Regions from separate parts of the Homo sapiens genome. Here regions 2, 3 and 4 are each linked to region 1. The links come from fine-mapping of genetic effects on gene expression. A gene starts in region 1. Each other region holds a variant in brackets. All regions are shown on one strand. Distances are from middle to middle. Region 1 holds the start of SNAP29 (synaptosome associated protein 29). Region 2 overlaps PI4KA (phosphatidylinositol 4-kinase alpha). Region 3 overlaps PI4KA (phosphatidylinositol 4-kinase alpha). Region 4 holds the start of AIFM3 (AIF family member 3).

Region 1 (5,257 bases):
GGCCAGGTGTGGTCGCTCACGCCTGTAATCCCAACACTTTGGGAGGCCAAGGCAGGTGGATCATGAGGTCAGGAGTTCAAGACCAGCCGGACCAACACAGTGAAACCCCGTCTCTACTAAAAATACAAAAATTAGCTGGGCATGGCGGCGGGTGCCTGTAAGCCCAGCTACTCAGGAGGTTGAGGCAGGAGAATCGCTTGACCTGGGAGGCAGAGGTAGCAGTGAGCTGAGATCGCGCCACTGAACTCTAGCCTGGGAGACAGAGCAAGACTCCGTCTCAAAAACAAAAAACACCAAAAAAACAAAAACAAAAACAAAAACAAAAAAATTAGCCAGGTGTTGTAGCAGGTGCCTCTAATCCCAGCTACTTGGGAGGTTGAGGCAGGAGAATCATTTGAACTGGGGAGGTGGAGGTTGCAGTGAGCCGAGATCACACCATCGCACTCCAGCCTGGGTGACAGAGTAAGACTTTGTCTCAAACAAAACAAAAATAAAAAACCAACAGTTAAACACAGGGAGGTGGGCTAGGTGCAGTGGCTCACGCCTATAATCCCAGGACTTTGGGAGGCCGAGGTGGTGGATCACGAGGTCAAGAGATCGAGACCATCCTGGCCAACATGGCAAAACCCCAACTCTATTAATACCAAAATTAGCTGGGTGTGGTAGTGCACGCCTTAGTCCCAGCTACTCAGGAGGCTGAGGCAGGAGAATCACTTGAACCCAGGAGGCGGAGGCTGTAGTGAGCCAAGTTGGTGCCACTGCACTCCAGTCTGGTGACAGAGCGAGAATCTGTCTCAAAAAAAAAAAAAAAAAACCACAGGGAGGTGGATCAATGAGGGATACATGAACAGAGAGAGGTGGGGAAGGGAATTAACCCAAGAAAACAGCAAGGGGAAATGATAGCGTGTTGCTCTGTCGCCCAAGCTGGAGTGCAGTGGTATGAACATGGCTCACTGCAACCTTGACATCCTGGGCTCAAGCGGTCCTCCTGCCTCAGCCTCCTCAGTAGCTGCACTCACATGTGTGTGCCACCATGCCTGGCTAATTTTTCAAATTTTGTAGAGACGCAGTTACCCCTGCTGGTCTCAAACTCCTGGGCTAAAATGATCTGCCTACCTCAGCCTTACAAATTGTTGGGATTACAGAAGTACAACCGCGCCTGGCTTATACATTTTTTTAAACCTTTTTTTTTCTCTGTCCAAACAAAACTGTTTCATTAGCAGGCTGAAGAGAGACTGTGGTGTACAATAAAGAATCATTCTCGACCGGTATGGTGGCTCACGCCTGTAATCCCAGCCCTTTGGGAGGCCAAAGCGGGCGGACTGCCTGAGGTCAGGAGTTCCAGACCAGCCTGGCCAACGGGGCAAAACCCTGTCTCCACTACAAATACAAAAAAAATTAGCCGGGTGTGGCGGCGCACCTGTAGTCCCAGCTACTCGGGAGGCTGAGGCAGGAGAATCGTCTGAATCCCGGAGGCGGAAGTTGCAGTGAGCCCAGATCATGCCACTGTACCCAAGCAAGGGCGACAGAGCGAGATTCCATCTCAAAAAAAAAAAAAAAAGAAAAAGAAAAAGACCCTCCAGGATCTCGGTCTGTTGCCCATGCTGGAGTGCAGCAGCACGATCTCAGCTAACTGCAACCTCTGCCTCCCGGGTACAAGCGATTCTCCTACCTCAGCCTCCTGAGTAGCTGCGACTACAGGCGCACCGCCACACCCGGCTAGTTTTTTTTTTTTTTTAATTTTAGTGGAGACAGGGTTTCACCATGTTGCCCAGGCGGGTCTCGAACTCCTGAGCTCAGGCGATCCGACGCCTAGGCCTCCCAAAGTGCTGGGATTACAGGCGTGAGTCACTGCGCTCGGCCAGAATAATTGTTATTGAAGGTACTACTCTCTGAAATCTAAGGATGGGAAGAACTGATGAAGATGAGTTGGAGCAACAAACTCTTAACCCGCACACTATTTGTCTAGGATTTGGGAAGTAAAGGTAAGACCCTGGACTCAATCAAACCCAGGCTTTGGTCAACTAGGCAGCTGTCTGGGCTGAAGGGACTTCAATACCTCTATTGGTTGGTTAGGTGGAGATGTCAATGATGCGGGAAGAACTCGTGGACCACCTGCCCTGATGCTTCAGGGTATCACCTGACACTCGCAGGCACATAGTCCTCTCTTTCTGGCTCACTCCGGAAGGAATGGCCAAAACCCTGTGCCAGATTTTGCACAGGAAATAATGTCGAAGAAACGGACTCTCCATTTCCCAAACCTAGGACCTGCTGTTCAGAATTTTTACTCACCTGGACAGAAAATAATCTGGCGTTTCCCCGTGAGCTAGGCGTAAGAAAAAAAAAATCAACGAAGCAGACTAATAGCTAAGGAAGATTTCTGGGGTAAACTGCCCTCTTCAAGTACTCCAGATGCACATACCTTTACATAGTTAACAGATTGTTACCACCATCGAGTCACTAAGGTGCAAGAATCTATGCTAGGCAACTTGAGAATTCTCAAAAGATTGTGAGCAAAACATTTCTCGTCTCCGTTTGACAGCACAGAGACCGGCGAGTCCACACCAGCCCTGCCCCAGGCTCACCTCGGAAGAGGCGACCCCAACCTTCTCGGACTCGTACATGAGGGCCAGGGACCTGCTGGTGCTGGCGGCCGTGGCCTCAGCCCTGCGGAGGACCTCCTGCCGCAAGTACTGCTGCCTGTCCGCGGGCGCGTCGGGCCCGTCGGGGAGGTCTCGGGCGTCCCTCCAAGGGGCCGGCCGGGCGCCTTCGTCCTCCCCGTCGTCGTCGAACGGATTGTAGCTTTTAGGGTAAGCTGACATGGTGCCGGCGCGGCTCTCGGTCTGGGAAACAGAAGGAGGAGCCCCACTGCCGCCGCCGTCCAGGGCCTCGCCCCGCCCGCCGACCCCGCGGTCGTCGCGCGAACTCCTTCCGCGCGTCGCGCGCAGGTGGCCCCGCCCTCGGAGCCGACCATCGCGCAGGTCGGCTGGGGGGGGCCCACATCCGGCGCGCGCAACCGCAGCCTACTGTCCATCCCCTCTCTCCCCTGCAGCGGTGGGCCCGCCCCGCAGCCACGCCCTATCTAGTGTCAGCAACTGAGAGGTCACGTGGCGGGAAAGCCGGATGCACCTACGCCTGCGCCCTGAGGTCGGGCGCTCGCGGGCCAGGAGCGGGGAGCCGGCGGGCAGCGCCGCGGCTCGTGAGGTGATGGCGGCGGCCCCGGCCCGGGGAGGCGGAGGCGGAGGCGGAGGCGGCGGCGGCTGCTCCGGCTCCGGCTCCAGCGCCTCGCGGGGCTTCTATTTCAACACGGTCCTGTCACTGGCCCGCTCCCTGGCGGTGCAGAGACCAGCATCCTTGGAGAAGGTAACGTCGGCGGGCTGGGCCGCGGGCTGACAGGAGGAGGGGCTGGGGTGACGAAGCGTGGAGGCGGGACGAGGGTCTGTGGGAGGCCGAGGCTGGGCTCGCCGGCAGCCTGTGCGGGAGGGGGCGCCTGAGCGGAGGGATCTAGCGGGGGAAGGAGGCCCTAGTGGGAGGGGCTGGTGAAGAGAGAGGGACCGTGGGGGAAGGGTCGGCGGGGCCTGCAGGGCCGCTGCAGGTGGGTGGTTGTGGGATGGGGGTGGGGGATGTGAGCTGCTGGCCCAGGGAGCATCTTGTGACATCGCGGAGGTGGAGGCTGGATCGTGGGCGGCTGTGCGGAGCAGTGGGATGAGCCGAGGACCAGGGGTCAAGACCTGGGGTTCTGCTTCCGATTTCACCTGCTTTTTATTCCGCGACCTTGGGAAGATGGCTTTCTTGTAAAATGGGGATGCTTTTATCTGCTTTGCCGGCTTCACCGGACTGTGGTGACCAGGAGACGAAACACTGTCTTGAAAGTGCTTTGTGACTGTAAACCAACTGCGCAGTGTTATTCTACGAGGCTGGGGGCGTTAGGTTGGGTAAAAGATTGTGCGTTTGCAGAAGGGACAGTGGCAGGGAAAGGAGAGTGAACTGTCAGTGGGCAGAGAAGTGAACTTGGAATTGCTTCAGAAGAGAAAGGTGAAGTCATGCCAGAGCAATCCTCATCTTGGGAGAAAGGTGAAAGGCAACTCAGTGGTGTGCCTTGAGATCTGGAAAGAGACAGATTTTAGAGTGGGACCTGAATTTGTTCCCTGCACTGGCACTTACTTACCATGTCCTCTTGGGTAAATTTAACTCTTAGAGCCTCTGTATCCTTATCTGTAAAATGAGGTTGTTCTTGAGAATTAAATGAGTTCTAGCATAAAGCATCTTGCACAGGTCAAGGCACAGAGTGGGTGAGCAGTAAATGTCAACTTTCTTTGCCCACCCGTGTGCGATGAGACTCAGCACAGTGTTTAGCTCTGAAAGGATGGAATTATTTTCCCACTCAACTTTTTGGCACATGGAGAGAGGATGTTTTCCGACAAGATAAGACAGTGGTGACCGGAGACCAGCCTGCTGCAGTTGGGAGTGGTTTTGTGGCTGTCTGCTGATGGATGAAGCTGAAAGGCTGTTTTAGGCACTTTTGGCAGAGTGACCTGGTCCTTGGCCTTGTCGGTTCTCATATTTGATTTTATCATGCACCTTCGGGGTGAGAAGGTCCCGGCAGATTGGTGCTAACCTGACTTCTAGCTAAAGAGGGAGTACAATGCAATGGAAAGGACATGAGTTTGGAAAATGGAACCTCTGAATTTAAATCCTGTATCACTTGCTTTCACTAGTGTGACTCTAGACAGGTCAGTTCCCTTCTCTGATACTTTGCTATCTTCTGTCAAATACAAGGTAGTACTTCATAGGAGTATTGTGAAGAGCAACAAAAAGGCACGTGGGTACCTAATGTATGAGCACTGTTATCATTAGATAGTCTGACTAATGGAGTGTAGTGCTGTTTTATTGAATCAAACTCATGCTAGCTAGTCAGCACATTCGCTTCTTAGCAGGAGAGCCAACAAATATATCTTATGACTGATTGCTGGATTCTGGGAGGAGAGAGAAGAGAATGCAGTGAATTGGATGATCTTTAAGAAGCTGGTCCTGCAGCTCCAGCAGTGGTAGCACCCTTTCCACTCAGTAACTCAGAAAAGGGCACCTTGAGCTCAATTTGCTTCTTCAGCCATGTTCACTAGTCACGAGAACATTCTGTAATTGCAACATTCTTAGCTTTGTAGTAATAACTGCTTCAGTTGTCAAGATTATATTTTATGATGGGGCACGGTGGCTCATGCCTGTAATCCCAGCACTTTGGGAGGCTGAGACAGGC
Region 2 (5,000 bases), 81 kb after region 1:
GTCAATGTCAGCTGCTCAAGCTGAATAGTTCACAGGTGCATTTCTTTAGCCTTTTGTCTATATTCCTGCTTATTGATAATTGGGAAAGGAAAAGAGAAAACTCAAATCCAGGCTGGCCAAATGCTAAAACAGTTTTTGTATTATTTCTTCCAATTTAACAGATTGCTAGGGTTGGCCTCCCTGGGTTCAGCTTTGGCTCTGCCCCTTAATAACTGGGTGCCCTTGGAGCATCGTTTTACTTCTTTTTTTTTTTTTTTTGAGATGGAGTCTCACTCTGTCGTCCAGGCTAGAGTGCAGTGGCACAGTCTCGGCTCACTGCAATCTCTGCCTTCCAGGTTCAAGTGATTCTCCTGCCTCAGCCTCCCAAGTAGCTGGGAGTACAGGCACCCACCGCCAGGCCCAGCTAATTTTTGTATTTTTAGTAGAGCCAGGTTTTCACCATGTTGGTCTGTTGGTCAGGCTGATCTCGAACTCCTGACCTCAAGTGATCTGCCTGCCTCGGCCTCCCAAAGTGCTGGGATTACAGGCGTGAGCCACCGCGCCCAGCCCATCCTTTTACTTCATGTGTTGGTGGCTTCCTCTGTAAAATGGGGATGCTAATAACAGTGATGACCTCACAAGGCTGTGTTAAAGCACAGAGTTAGGGCTCAGTAAGTGTCAGATGCTACTGTCACTTCAGCTTGGCCTTCCCTGTCCCCGTTCCAGAGTCAATCTTGTGTCTAGTTTTCCTGGATAAATTATAGCTACAGTACAGTTCTTGGCATTCAATCTACCCACATACAAAAATAGTATGTTGTGGGTTTGCTGTGAGAACTGTAAAGGTGCCTCTTACCTTTGAAGTAGATGCAGTTGAGAATCATCATCTGGGTAGCAGGGTCTATATTCTCCAGAGCATCTTTTATGAGGCCCTTGGTGAGCTTCATGATGTGGTTGTTGGTTTTTGATATGAAGGCAGGGTCTGAGAAGTCAGCTATCTGGGCCTCAGCAAAGTAATACTCTCTTACTTTAGTTTTGAAGTCAAGCAGGATTGGAAACTGCTTCTGGATATAAAGGTCATTGACTGACCGCAGTGTGTACCCAAAATTCCTCCTGAAGAGGCGATGAGTCAGCTTACGGAAGAGATTATGAATGGTCGTGATTTCATACTTGCTGCTGGCATTAACAAAGTCTTTAAAATGCAAAATCGAGTGCACTTGTTCATGGGTCTCTCCCTTCAGACCTAAGGAAATCATACCCATCGCAGTAGAAATGCCAACGGGTGCTATGAAGATGTTATCGAAAGTGTTGACCTGGTCTTTCAGCACTCGGTAGAGGTTGAAAGCGAACTTGGCGTTGAGGATGTTAAGACGCTGGATCCGGCTCTTGCCATGAAAAAGCTGGAGGATGTTCCCAGCACTCACATCAGAGTCTGTCGGGGAAACTGACAGACTGTCGACGATGTCGATGTAGTCGTCGTCTTCACTGAATATCTTCTCCAGGTCCAGATAGTCGTCGTCCTCCTCCCCCTCTGGAATCCAGTCGTTGGTGACGGTGTTTTCCTTGTGGAAGTCGGCAGGGAGAAGAGGCATGCTCAGGTTTTTGTTATTTAACTGCTCCCACTGGGGATCTGCAGACTGAGCAGTTTCCCCTCCTTTCTCTAGCTGATCCAGCGGGCCTTTGCTCCCACCCCACGCAGATGTTATGATGAGGAAAATGAGAAGTGCGTTTAATGAGTGTTTCATTTTGGCGGAGCTAAAGCTGGGAGGGAAAACAGAACACAGTGAAAGGCGGCCTGGCTGATCCACACCCCGCTGCAGCATCCACATGGCAGGTTCCCTGTGGCTTTGACCCAGGAAGAGGCCCTCACAGCATTAGTTCTTAACTGTTTTAGGATCATGGACTTTAAGAGAATCTGATGTAGATAGACACCCAACCTTTGATGTGGGACTCATAAACCTCA[A/G]TGAAGGATCTGTGGGCCCCTTGATGAAAATCCCTTCTTTAAAGGTTTGCAAAACTAACCTTCTAGAATCCTGGGAGCTCAGGCATCCCAGGGAGGAGTTTGTTTTTCTCCAGACACCTTGTCCACCACCTCCAGACAGTGTTTAGTTACCAGAGACAAAGTTCCCACCAGGGGCTCATGGACCAGTCAGGGGACAGATGGGACAGACGTGCAGTAAAGCGAAGGCTCTCAAAATAATGCTGCCAGAGCACATGGGGGTACGGAAAGGGGTGTGGCTCTACCCTGTGTGGTAGGAGTGGAAGTGCCCAGAGAGTCAGGGAAACCTCACTAAGAGCTGGGCTTGAGTGGGCACCTGGGGCTGGTGATTGGAGAGTACCTAGAAGGGATGTGCATTAGTGGGACTCAGCCATGCCTGTGTGACTCACACCATTCCACCTTTGCAATGGAGATGCTGTTGAAAAATGTCCATGGGCCAGGCTTTCTGAAAACATATTCTAAAGATACTTGAAATTTGTGCAATCTTTGGGGTTGTTTAATTCGTTGTTTTTTTGTTGTTGTTGTTGTAATTGGCTTTTGTTGTTTTTATTTTTTGAAATGGAGTCTCACTCTGTCACCCAGGCTGGAGTGCAGTGGCGCGATCTCGGCTTACTGCAACTTCGGCCTCCTGGACTCAAGCAATTCTCTTGCCTCAGCCTCCCAAGTAGCTGGGACTACAGGTGCACACCACTACGCCTGGTTAATTTTTGTATTTTGTTTAGTAGAGATGGGGTTTTGCTCTGTTGGCCAGGCTGGTCTCAAACTCCTGACCTCAGGTGATCCACCCACCTCAGCCCCCCAAAGTGCTGGGATTACAGGCATAAGCCACCACGCCTGACCTGGGGTTGTTTAATTTGCAAAAGATTTGGAACTTGTCTAGTGCTGAGACCCCCTCAGGGCGTAGTGAGGTGATGTGGTGGCAGCCCCAGAGGTGATATCACTTGCTGCAGGTATACTTTTTTCTCCTTTGTATCTCTTAGACAATAGCTCCCACTGCTGTCAGGAGCAACTAAATCTTCTGTGTTACTGCTTCTAACACAGGGTTAGAAACAAGAGATAAAGTCTGTGTGAGGGTGATGTCAGCAAGCTCTTACTCAAGACCTGAGGGGCACTCCCTTTATTTAAGTAAACAAGATAAGCTTTTAGCACAGAGGCATTATGGCAATCCTGTCTTTATTTGTTCCTCTGACTCGTTCAGAGGAGGATCTGACTTGGCCTGTCAAATCTGTTTTGACTGCCAAATCCTTTGTCTTTCTCTTGCTTACTTCCTGGTTATTAACTGCACTCTGGTTAGATGAGCTTTGATGATTCCATGTTTTGCCAGGACAGTGACCATAGGTGTTTATAATGCTGACTCAGACAGGTAATACATGGTCCCAACTTCTAATCACCCCAGAAAGAACTGCCGGCCAGGCGCTGTGGCTTACGCCTATAATCCCAACACTGGGAGACCAAGGCAGGAAGATCACTTGAGCCCAGGAGCTCAAGACCAGTGTGGGCAACATAGCAAGACCTCATCTCTGTGAAAAATTAAATAAATAGGCTGGGTGCGGTGGCTCAGGTCAGTAATCCCAGCACTTTGGGAGGCCGAGGTGGGCGGATCATCTGAGGTCGGGAGTTCGAGACCAGCCTGGCCAACATGGAGAAACCCTGTCTCTACAAAAAATACAAAAAAATTAGCCGGCGTGGTGGCGCATGCCTGTAATCCCAGATACTTAGGAGGCTGAGGCAGGAGATTCGTTTGAATTCAGGAGGCAGAGGTTGTGGTGAGCCAAGATCGCACCATTGCACTCCAGCCTGGGCAAAAAGAGCGAAACTCCGTCTCAAAAAAAAAAAAAAGAAAAGAAAAATAATTAGCCTGGTGTGATGGCACACGCCTGTGGTCCCATCTACTTGAGAGGCTGAAGTAGGAGGATCACTTGAGTCTGCAGTGAGCCGTGATCACGCCACTACTGCACTCCAACCTGGGGGATAGAGTGAGTCCTTATCTCAAAAAACAGAAAACAAAAAAAAAACAAAAAAAAACTGCCTTTTGTTAAGCTTATTTTGTGTCTGTGACCATTTCCTATTAGATAGATATTTGAGGCCCAGAATATCTGCTGCCAGTTGAGGCCAGGTAAGAGTTACTGGCTGCTCTTGTTAAGCAAATATTTGAACTCAGTAGGCCTGAAGATGGGGTAACTGTTCGGATACTCTGCTTGAAATGCTGTCAGTGTGGTTAATGTTGATAATGGCCTCTGTTGGATGCCTGACACGCTGTATAAGGCACTTCGTGTAACTTAGTTTCATCCTCCCAACATTTTATATATCAGGAGACTGAGCCTTTCGTCACTGTCACTAATAAGTGGCAGTGGCTAGATTCGAACCAAGTTGGTTAAGCCTCTAAGCCCCACATCAAGCGCTCAGCCTTGTTCGCTCTGGAGTACCAGGATGCTTCCAGACTCCCTGGCCGTGCAGAGCAGCTTCCTAGCTGTTTTCCCAGTGCCAGTCCCATTCCTTGGGTCTTCCCCTTATAATACTGTTGAAATAGTAAGTTCAAAGTTTGTTTTAGTCACAACTAAGAAAGACTTTTGAATTGCACATTTTGGAGCAGGAAAGTCACATTGTTTCTGACTCAAAATGCCTGTTGCCTTTTCCAGGTCCCCATCTCAGCACCTGCCTCAGGCTGCAGTGCCACTAGTTTACACACGGGAAAACAGTTTCTAGAAACGATTTCTTTTTATTTTTATTTTGAGACGGCGGGGTCTCACTCTGTCACCCAGGCTGGAGTGCAGTGGCACAATATTGGTTCACTGCCACCTGTTCCTCTCAGGCTCAAGAGACCCTCCCACCTCAGCCTTTTGAAGTAGCTGGGACCACAGGTGTGTGCCACCAAACCCAGTTAATTTTTTGTGTTTTTGGTAAAGATGGGGTTTTACCATGTTGCCCAGACAGGTCTCAAACTCCTGAGCTCAGGCAATTCTCCTGCCTTGGCCTCCCAAAGTGCTGGAATTACAGGTATGAGTTACCATGCTCAGCCTCTAGA
Region 3 (5,000 bases), 34 kb after region 1:
GAACACAGTCCCATTCACAATATTCACAAAAATAATAAAATACCAGTCGGGCATAGTGGCTCACGACTGTAATCCCAGCACTTTGGGAGGCCGAGGCAGGTGGATCACTTGAGGTCAGGAGTTCGACACCAGCCTGGCCAACATGGTGAAACCCATCTCTGCTAAAAACACAAAAATTAGCTGGGCATGGTAGTGCACGCCTGTAATCCCAGCTACTTGGGAGGCTGAGGCAGGAGAATCGCTTGAACCTGGGAGGCGGAGGTTGCAGTGAGCCGCGATTGTGCCACTGCCCTCCAGCCTGGGCGACAGAGTGAGACTCCATCTCAAAAAAAAGAAAAGATAAAATACCTTGGAATACAGCTAACCAGGGAGGTGAAAAATCTCTATAGCAAGAATTACAAAATACTGCTGAAAGAAATCAGAGCTTACACAAACAAATGGAAAAACATCCCATGCTCATAGATAGGAAGAATCAATATTGTTAACATGGCCATACTACCCAGAGCAATTTATGGATTCAGTGCTATTCCTATCAAACTACCAATGACATTCTTCACAGAATTAGAAAAAAACTATTTTAAAATTTTTATGGAACCAAAAAAGAGCCTGAATAACTAAGGTAGTCTGAAAAAGAGTAAAGCTGGAGACATCACATTACCCAACTTCAAACTTCACCTCTACTACAGGGCTACAGTAACCAAAACAGCATGGTACTGGTAAAAAAAATAGCACATAGACAAATAGAATAGAGAGCCCAGAAATAATGCTGCACACCTGGAACCATCTGATCTTCAACAGAGTCAACAAAACAAGTAATGGGGAAAGGACTCCCTGCTCAATAAATGGCGCTAGGATAACTGGCTAGCTATATTCGGAAGATTGGAACTAGACCCCTTACTTACACCTTATACAAAAATCAACTGAAGATGGATTAAAGATCTAGATGTAAAACCTTAAACTATAAACACCCTGGAAGATACTAGGAAATACCACTCTGGACATAGACCCTGGCAAAGATTTAATGGCAAAAATTTAATGACAAAGATGCCAAAAGCAATTGCAGCAAAAACAAAAATTGACAAATGGGACCTAATTAAACTAAAGAGCTTCTGCACAGTAAAATAAACTGTCAAGAGAGTAAACAGCCACCCTACTGAATGAAAGAAAATATTTGCAAACTATGCAAAGGTCTAAAGTCCAGAATCTATGAGGAACTTAAATTTACAAACAAAAAAAAAACCCCGTTAAAAGGTGAGCCAAGGACGAATAGATACTTCTCAAAAGAAGACATACAAGTGGCCAAAAATATATGAAAAATATGCTCATCATCTGATGCTAATAATCAGAGAAATGCAAATCAAAATTGCAATGAGATACCATCTCACACCAGTCAGAATGGCTATTATTAAAAAGTCAAGAAATAACAGATGCTGGTGAGGTTGTAGAGAAAAGGGAACACTTACACACTGCTGGTGTGAATGTAAATTAGTTCAGCCATTGTGGAATGCAGTTTGGCAATTTCTGAAAGAATTTAAAACAGGATTACCATTTGACCCAGCAATCCCATTATTGGGTATATACTCAAAGGAATGTAAATCATTCTACTGTAAAGATGCATGCGTAAGTATGTTTATTACAGCAGTATTCACAATAACAAAGATAAGGAATCAACCTAAATGCCCATCAGTGGAAGACTGGATAAAGAAAATGTCGTATGTGTACCGTGGAGTACTGTGTAGCCATAAAAAAAGAAAAAGATTATGTCCTTTTATTTTTTATTTTATTTTATCTTTTTTTGAGACGATCTCGCTCTGTCACCCAGCTTGGAGTGCAGTGGTGCGATCTCTGCTCACTGCAACCCTCGCCTCCCAGGTTCGAGCGATTCTCCTGTCTCAGCCTCCCAAGTAGCTGGGATTATAGGCATGTGCCACTACACCCGGCTAATTTTTATATTTATAGTGGAGATGGAGTTTTGCCGTGTTGGCTAGGCTGGTCTCGAACTCCTGGCCTCAAGTTATTTGCCTGCCTCAGCCTCCCAAAGTGCTGGGATTACAAGTGTGAGGCCACCATACCTGGCCAAGATCACGTCTTTTGTAGCAACATGGATGGAGCTGGAGACCGTTATGGGAGAATTAGCACAGCAACAGGAAACCAAACGCTGCATGTTCTCACTTGTAAGTGGGAGCTAAACTTCGAGTACATATGAACACAGAAGGGAACAGCAGACACTGGGGCCTACTTAAGAGTGGAGAATAGGAGGAAGGTGAGGATGGGAAAACTACTTTCTGGGTACTATGCTTATTACGGGGATGATGAAATAATCTGTACACCAAACCCCCGTAACATGCAGTTTACCTGTATAACAAAACTGCGTATGTACCCCTGAACCTGAAATAAAAATTAAAAAACATTCTGTTTGTGCCAGTATTCCTCTTAACCTTTGGGTTTTCATCATTTCTGGTAACATGCCTAAAACTGACAGATCCCAAATTATGCATGTACCTGCAATTTGTTAGGATTTTGTTTGTTTTTTGTTTTTTTGAGACAGTCTCACTCTGTCTGCACTCCAAGCTGTAGTGCAGTGGCCTGACCTCGGTTCACTGCAACCTCCACCTCCTGGGTTCAAGCAATTCTCGTGCCTCAGCCTCCCAAGTACCTGGGATTACAGGCATGCATCACCATGCCTGGCTAATTTTTGTATTTTCGGTAGAGATAGTATTTTGCCATGTTGGCTGGGCTGGTCTTGAACTCCTGGCCTCAAGTGATCTGCCTGCTTTGGCCTCCTAAAGTGCTAGGACTATAGGCATGAGCCACTGCACCCAGTCTGTCCTGCAATTTGATGGACTACAAATTAAATAGAGCATCATTACTAAAAGGTCAAATTTTAGGCCGGGCATGGGCACATTCAAGTTTGAGAACAGCCTAGAGCTGCACTTTAAAATTTTAAGTGCTGGAGTAGAAATGTAAGTCTTCTGTCATGTACTATGAATATAGCTATTAAATAGTGGATACTCTTTTTTCCTTGATTCAACATTCAATATTCAAAATTGATTTTTTTTTTTTTTTTT[G/TTTTTG]AGATGGCGTCTCATTCTGTCACCCAGGCTGGAGTACAGTGGTGCGATCTCGGCTCACTGGAACCTCCACTTCCTGGCTTCGAGCTATTCTCCTGTCTCAGCCTCCCAAGTGGCTGGGATTACAGGTGTGCGCCACCACACCCAGCTAATTTTTGTATTTTTAGTAGAGACGGGGTTTCACCATGTTGGCCAGGCTGGTCTTGAACTCGACCTCAGGTGATCCGTCTGCCTTGGCCCCCCAAAAGTGCTGGGATTACAGACTTGAGCCACTTCGCCCAGCCGAGTGTTTTGTGTGTGTGTGTGTGTGTGTGTGTGTGTGTGTGTGTGTGTGTGTGTGATTTATCACATTTACTTAGGGAATAAAAAATTGAATCTGTCATGTTGAGAGGCTTTGTTATCTCACACTAGCTATTGGCTCAGGAAACATTTAAGTTTATTGAACCAAAACATTTACTTAAAGGAAAGGTAAGGGTGTTTCTCAGCAAACTCATTGGGCCCATAGCTGTTCTTTTGAGACTCGTCTCAAGGAGGGCAGCTGCTGTAAACTGGTCCCTTGGCAGGTCATGGTGAGAGGGAACATATTGAATTGGATGGCCAGAGGTGTGACCCAGTATCTGGTTCCTGGTTATCTGATTTATGTTTTTACATCTTCCAGGTGCCCTCCCGGTTGCAGAGAGCTTCAGCTTCTGCTTGGTAACTCTGCTGTCTGATGTGGCCTATAGGGATCCTTCACTTAGGGATGAGGTAAGCATGTGTTGGTTGATTTGGTATGCATTTCTATTAGATTGAATAGAGTCCCAAAGTGATGAAAAGATTTTAAAAACGTGAAATGTGATTGAATTGTTTGTTGATATTTATCTATTTCATCCTGTTGACAGCAGACCTAAGACATGCTTAGGTCTTTCACTACTCTTTAGGATCTCGAGTCTTATCTTATTAAACTTTTCTTTTTTTTTTTTTCTTTTTTCTAATGAAGGGCAGGGGCTGCAGAGACATGAGCAGCACTATCCCTTTCAGCTTTTCAGAAAGTCCTTTAAGGTAGGCGGCAGAAAAAGGCAGAGGCAGCTCATTTTTCTTGCTCTTTGTTGGGGATTGAAGTCATTCATAGAAGATCATTTTCTTTTCTTTTTTTGAGGCAGTCTTGCTCTGTCATCCAGGCTGGAGTGCAGTGGTGCAATCTTGGCTCACTGCAACCTCTGCCGTCCACCTCAAGCCAGCCTCCCTCCTAAGACTCCCAAGTAGCTGAGACTATAGGCGTGCACCATCATGCCAGCTAATTTGTTTTGTATTTTTTGTAGAGACAAGGTTTCGCCATGTTGCCCAGGCTGGTCTTGAACTCCGGGCCTCAAGTGATCCTTCTGCCTCGACCTCCCAGAGTGCTGGGATTATAGGTGTGAGCCACTGTGCCCAGCTAGAAGAGAATCTTCTAGGTAGCTGAAGCTTTTATCTTTAAGGGCACAGACTTTCTTTAGATTTTGTTAATTTTGATAGAAATGTTACAAACATGTATTTCATACTTTCCTGTTCTTTAAACAAAGAATGTAATCATACAACTTTTTCTTAAATTTATCGCTTAGAAAGTTAGTTTTTGTATGCTGCTGTTCCTAGGTTCTTCCAAACAGTGCCTAGTTGCTTGTCTGCATTCTAAATGTTCCCAGTTAGTGATGTATTTTGACTAATTTAGATTCTTCATTTATTTGTAGGTTGGCTAAAGAAATACTTAAATATGTTAGAATAATGTGTTTTTATTAAAAAGTTGGACATTAAGGGCTTTTTTCTATGAATAAAATTTATCAGAATAAAGAGGTCAACACCAAAGGTGATAACATGACTTTAACATATAAAATGGAAAAAGTGGCTGGGTGCGGTGGCTCAGGCTTGTAATCCTAGCACTTTGGGATGCTGAGGCGGGTGGATCACCTGAGGTCAGGA
Region 4 (5,257 bases), 110 kb before region 1:
CTAGGTCACAGAGTGGCTGAGCGTGTCCCCAGCTCCCCCCTTCCCTGGCCCTGGGGGCATAGCCCCTTCCCCAACCCTGCAACAGGAGGAACCCTGACTTTCCTTTTCCAAGAAGGGTCCTGCTGTTATTCCCACCACCAACACTCAAAGCCCCAAAGAAAAAGGGGCACCCACTGGAGCAGGGGCCAGCTGGGGGAACTGCTCCAGGCCCCCTACCCCCTCCTGGCGGCAGCGTATTAACATTCCGAGCGGGTTCTTGGATAGCCTGACCTACTTCGGAGGCCTACCGAGTGCAGAGGGGGAGGGGGGGGAGACGGGGGAGGAGGAGGCGGGGAGGGAGGAGAAAGGATGGAGACAAGAAGACAGGAGGTACCTGGTTTGGGTTTGGAGAAGCAGCCGCCCATGGCGAGTGGCCTGAGGATGGCCGGCAGGCAGGAGCACAGATGGGGAGCTGTCGGAGGCCTAGGGCGCCCCCCATGGGGCTGGACCCCCTGCAGGCCTTAGAGACGCTGGAGCCGCCATCCTGCTGGAGCTGCTCTAGGACCTGCAGGGGAGACTGGAGCCATCAGGACCGGGGCGTGTGGGCAGGTAGAGACACAGAGGGACGGAGAGAGACAGTGGGAGCTTCGGAAAGAGTCTTACATTTGAGCTGGGAACCATGGCGTGAGCCTGATCCCAGAGCGTGGGGCCCTGGAGGTCACCTCCCCTTTGAAGCCCTCCAAGCTCAGCTCCCTCACTCCTCCAGTGGAGTTCCTCTGCCCGAACCTCGGCCGCCCATCGTCCAGCCCCGCGGCTGCCTTGCCCAGGAAATCCTCCCTGATTTCTACTGCCTCCTCGTGCCCCCCTTCCCCTCTCCAAATCCCACAGCCTGAGAGCTCTGGGACCCTCCATTCTCCCGGGAGACCACTATGCCTAGGCTCAAAGAGGGGGTCACCTTGGGGAAGCCAAAGCCCTTCTCATCCTTGGTCTTCTCCCTCCTACAATGGGGGTGACATCAGGCTCCCCCTAGCCCAGCCCCACCCTGGCTAGCACTCCGGACACCCACCTCCTCGCAGGGCAGCCACTGCTCCGTGTTCCAGGCCCAGCAGTGGACTGAGGCTGCCGGGCCTTGGAAGGCCGGGCAGGGAGGGCAGGGGTCCAGGAGGCGGCCCAGCCTCCACCCTCCTCCCAGCTCAAGCTGTGGCCAGGAGGGGCTGGGGGGCGGTGTGGGGCTGGGCCAGTCCACTGGTCCCCAGGGAAACCCTGCTCTGTGGTGAACAGAAGTGGGCGGCCAGCCCGGGCCTGATGGGGTTAGGGGAAAGGGAAGCCAGGCACACAGCCCTGCCACGCCTGTGCCCAGCAGCCATAAGCTCCCCCTACCCCCGACTCCAGCCCTTCACAAACGCCCACCAGGCCTGTGGGCAGTCATGCCCAACAGCATATGGGGAAAGCAAGGGGTCAAGGTCCCATCAAGGTCAAGCAGCAGGGGCATCCCTGTGGCCTCCCACCCCACCCTCCCACCTTGATCAGTTTTAAGGTGGGCAGGGGCCCAGAAAGCCCCCATATCACCCTAAGGCCCTGCAAGGTGCCCTGGGGGAGGGGACACCTGCACAGCAGAGAGATCACTGTAGCCAGGTGCCTTCCAGGCTACAGGGTGGGCCTTCCGGAAGATGCAGCCTACAGGTGGACTTTGGAAGGCCCAGGGCACAGGCATAAGCTGCCTTGTTTGCAAATGACCTCCCCACAGTCCATCCCACTGCCATCCTCCAGTTTCCTCTGGAAGTTCTTCCTGAAGTCTCACTTGAGGTGGGGCTGAGACCCACCTGGTCTGGTCCAGATACCAGGAAGGGCCGTGGGTGGGTGCCTGAGAGCAAGGGGTGGAAACAAAAGGCCAGGTTGGAGAGGGACCCTTGGTGCCTGGCCCCTGCGCCTGTCGGTCCTCGAGGTGCCCATTACAGGGGAGGAGGCGGTGGCTCCCACAGCCACTGGGGCGTGCCTTGGCTCTTTCCCCCACTTGTCATCAAAGAAGGTCTGTAAAACTCAACTGCCACCTGCCCCACCTGCCCCTTCCCTGGGCACTAGGCTGTCCCTTCCTGGGTCCTGGTTTCAGCCCTGGTTCAGCCCTG[C/G]CCGCTTCCTTCCTGGCTGACCTCAGGCCTCACCTGATGGGCCACAGATCCCAGAAAAGGTCAGACCTGGTCTTGCCACTGGGGACCTGCCCAGGCTGTGCTGTCCCTTCCCGAGTACCCAGGGACCTGAATCCCCCAGGGCCTGGGCCAGGAAGGAGACTGGGTGGGGCCCCTGTGCCTTCGGCCTACTGTGTGCTAGATCGGCTTGGAGCCCAGTCACCCCACTCAAAGGCAAAGGTCCTTGCCAGGGGCAGGGCAGGAGGGACCCCCAGAGTGCAGAGCGCCCGAGTGCTATTCCTTGCCCATGAGCTGCCCACTGCAGAAAAGTTCTAGCAGAGCCCAGTGCTAACCACCCAGCAGGAGTCTGTGTCTGTCCCAGGGACCCCAGGACCTGTGAGGCGGGACTGGATTACTCCCATCTCACAGAGCGGCCCCTGCTCCACCTGACCCTCCCAGGGCTCCTGGCGCCCCCAGGGTGCAGGCTGGGCAGGGTCCTCTCCCCACTCCTCCACCTCTCGCCACCTGCCCCCACTGCCTCATCCCAAGGGCTCCTGCCCAGATCGGACTCCCAGTGGCTTCCAGGCGTCCTAGGGGTGGCATCTGATCCCAGTCCTGCCTTCGAGTGTGGGGGCTCCGCGCTCTCCCCTCCCCCACGGAGCTCAGGGCAAGCCTCTGTCCACTCTCCCCGCCTCTGCACGTGCAGTTCCCTCTCTCTGGGAAGCCGATGCCAGCAGCCTCGCCGGCTCCGTCCCGTTGCCCCCGCCAGACCTTGCAGCCCGAGAAGGGGGACTGGCACACAGTGGGGCCCCGCGGCGAGCCGGGAAGGGGCCGTTGTGGGACGAGAGAAGGACGAGGTGAGCTTCGGACCCCGGCCAGTGCCTCTGGCCCCGCTTGCCAACCCCCAGCCCCTAACGTGCCGGGCCGGGGTCCGAGACTTGGGAGCGCAAGCGCTGGCCCCCGGCGCCGGGGCGAAGAGGCGGGGCGGCGGGCGGGGACCGGGGTTCCGGGGACCAGGGTCCCCGGGGCGGGCGCTCACCTGGGCTCGGCGCGGGCCTGGGCTCGGGAACCGCTTGGGGCCGCGGGCGCGGGGGGGCGGGGAGGCGCGGGCGGGGCGTGTCTGGCGCTGCGTTTGCACTGCGGCCGGGGAGCCCGCGGGCCCAGCACCGCCCCGCCGGGCCGGAGCAGGTGGGGGGCGGCCGGGGGACAGGGGCAGGCCGAGGCCCTCGGCGTCCGGACCGGAGTCGCGGGGCGTAGGGAGGCAGCCAGGGGCCGCTCTGGCCGGGGGCGCCCCGGGCCCGAGTCTGGGTCTCCGGGGATCCTCGCGACCTCCCAGGGATGCCCAGCTGGGGCGCGGGCAGGGTCTTTTTTCCTTTTCTTTCTTTCCAAAGTCTCAGAACCATCTGTGGGCGGGGTGGGGGAACTTGAATCACTCTGAGAAACCTCCACAAGAAAGAAAACCCCAATCAAACCTTGCTGCCCACAGCTCCCTTCACTGGTTGGGGGAGTTCAGGTTCCCCGGTGTCCTAGGTTCCTCCCGGCCCTCTCTCCACACATACCAGGGTCTGTTTTCAATTATATTTTATTACATTTTCTTTTTCTCACCTGTCATTTACCAGAACTCCTTGGGTCTCCAGAAATCACAGTGCACCCTGATGTTGTGCCTCCTCCTCCAGGAGGCCCTCCCTGATCAGCCTCCCCTCTATTAGGGCTGATTATTCTGGTTCCTAACACTTGGGTGTTTCATTGTCCTTAATGTGTGCATCTCTGCGTTGTAGGTAGACCTTGTCTTTCAAGCAGGCTGGAGCACAGAGGCTGTGTGGGTTCCTCCCCGGTCTGGGCCTTGCTCTCCTCTCCTGTAAGGAGGACAATAATGACAGCAGTAAAGTCCCCTGTGCCAGGCCCAGCCAGCCTTCCCAGGCCATCCTCTGGGACTATTTATGCCCCACCCCACCCAGGGGGCAAGTTCGAGCCCCCACCACCACCACCCTCCTACAATTTTACAGATAGGAAATGCAGCCCAGGGAGTCCTGGTCTCGTTCAGGGTCAGGAACAGGCCCTGCATGGGTCACACTGGGGGCAGGTGGTGGGGTGACCAGGCCCAGAGGGCACATGTGGCTCAGTTCAGGCAAGTCCTCTCAGCTCATGTGTTGCTTCCACAGTGGGACCGTTGCCACTGCCACAGGAGAGTCCCATCACAGGGCAGATGGCAGTGCTTGGGGCTGGTGCCCTCAGTCTCCAACCAGCCTGCCCCCATTTCATACACGTGGTGATCTTGCTGCCCCACCCACCTTCAGAATCTCCTCTAGCCAGGAAGACAGTGTGCCTCATAGTAACTACAGCTGTGATTTTGCATGCATTTATTTCCTTACCCATCACAACAGCCTGAGAAGGAAAGTTCTCTTTGTATTATCTCCATTTCACAAACGGAGAAACTGAGGTTCAGTGAGGTTAGGGACTCTCCAGGGCCACACAGCTGCTAAGTGGCAGAGCAGCCCTGGGCAGGCTGGCCTCCCAGATGGAGGGCTGGAAGCAGGAGGGGAGAGGCCTACCAGGCTCATGCAAGACCACAGGGCCTCCAGTGCACAATGCAAGTCCTGTTCTGTGACCTTGGCAATCAGTGAGTGGACCCCTCTGCTCCAGCCTTCCCAGGACACCGCAGGTAACTGAAATACTCTCCCAGACTGCTGCCAGGACACCATGACAGGCACAGAGCCAGGCACAGGGGGTGCTTGGGAAGTGGGGTCGGGGCTGCTGAGTTTGGGGTGCCAGAGATAAAGCTGGGGAAACAGGTCAGTGTAGGGACTGAGGCCAGCAACTTGGGGAGATACCCTGACACAAGGCAAGTGCAGGCCTGACCTGGGGCAAGTCCATTGTGGCTCCCTTTGCCGCAGGCACTGTGCTTGAGGTTCCTGCTGCCCCATGGTGGGGCAGAAATCACAAGATCTTCGTAGAGCAAAAGCTAAAACCAAGGGCAGGCTAAAAGTGCTGCCTCTCCCGAAGGGCCCTCAGGCTTAGTGGAGATGCATGTGGACCAGGGGCCCCAGGAAGACCCAGGAGGGCTCTGAGCCCCGGGCAGCCTGAGGTCCTGATATTGCCCCAGGGATAGTTCTGGAAAGACGATAATATTCCAGCAGCTTTGACAGTACCAAATG

Evidence for each region. PIP is the estimated chance that this variant, and not a neighbour inherited with it, causes the effect.
Region 2: its variant is the best candidate, but not a certain one, in a credible set for the expression of SNAP29 in whole blood (TOPMed, PIP 0.62).
Region 3: its variant is the best candidate, but not a certain one, in a credible set for the expression of SNAP29 in whole blood (INTERVAL, PIP 0.74).
Region 4: its variant is the best candidate, but not a certain one, in a credible set for the expression of SNAP29 in whole blood (INTERVAL, PIP 0.61).

The regions. Positions count from the first base shown.
Region 1 is chr22:20,856,676-20,861,932 of GRCh38, reverse strand. It overlaps SNAP29 (synaptosome associated protein 29), which reads right to left and starts at 2,926. Exons shown (of 5, transcript NM_004782.4): 1 at 2,586-2,926. The coding sequence starts at 2,822. It overlaps PI4KA (phosphatidylinositol 4-kinase alpha), which reads left to right and starts at 3,122. Exons shown (of 55, transcript NM_058004.4): 1 at 3,122-3,363. The coding sequence starts at 3,208. RefSeq lists an enhancer at 2,195-3,004 and silencers at 2,684-3,443, 3,464-3,513.
Region 2 is chr22:20,776,034-20,781,033 of GRCh38, reverse strand. All of the region lies in intron 19 of PI4KA (phosphatidylinositol 4-kinase alpha), which reads left to right. It overlaps SERPIND1 (serpin family D member 1), which reads right to left. Exons shown (of 5, transcript NM_000185.4): 2 at 833-1,737. The coding sequence starts at 1,721. Among named protein-coding and RNA genes, the nearest start is that of SERPIND1, 4.4 kb to the right of the region's middle. RefSeq lists an enhancer at 2,939-3,233. The variant A/G (reference allele first, on the strand shown) is at 1,940.
Region 3 is chr22:20,823,138-20,828,137 of GRCh38, reverse strand. It overlaps PI4KA (phosphatidylinositol 4-kinase alpha), which reads left to right. Exons shown (of 55, transcript NM_058004.4): 4 at 3,724-3,812. Among named protein-coding and RNA genes, the nearest start is that of PI4KA, 33 kb to the left of the region's middle. The variant G/TTTTTG (reference allele first, on the strand shown) is at 3,069.
Region 4 is chr22:20,963,092-20,968,348 of GRCh38, reverse strand. It overlaps AIFM3 (AIF family member 3), which reads right to left and starts at 1,094. Exons shown (of 21, transcript NM_001386814.1): 1 at 1,046-1,094; 2 at 374-544. The coding sequence starts at 404. LINC01637 (long intergenic non-protein coding RNA 1637) reads right to left here. Exons shown (of 2, transcript NR_110537.1): 2 at 3,669-3,958. The variant C/G (reference allele first, on the strand shown) is at 2,106.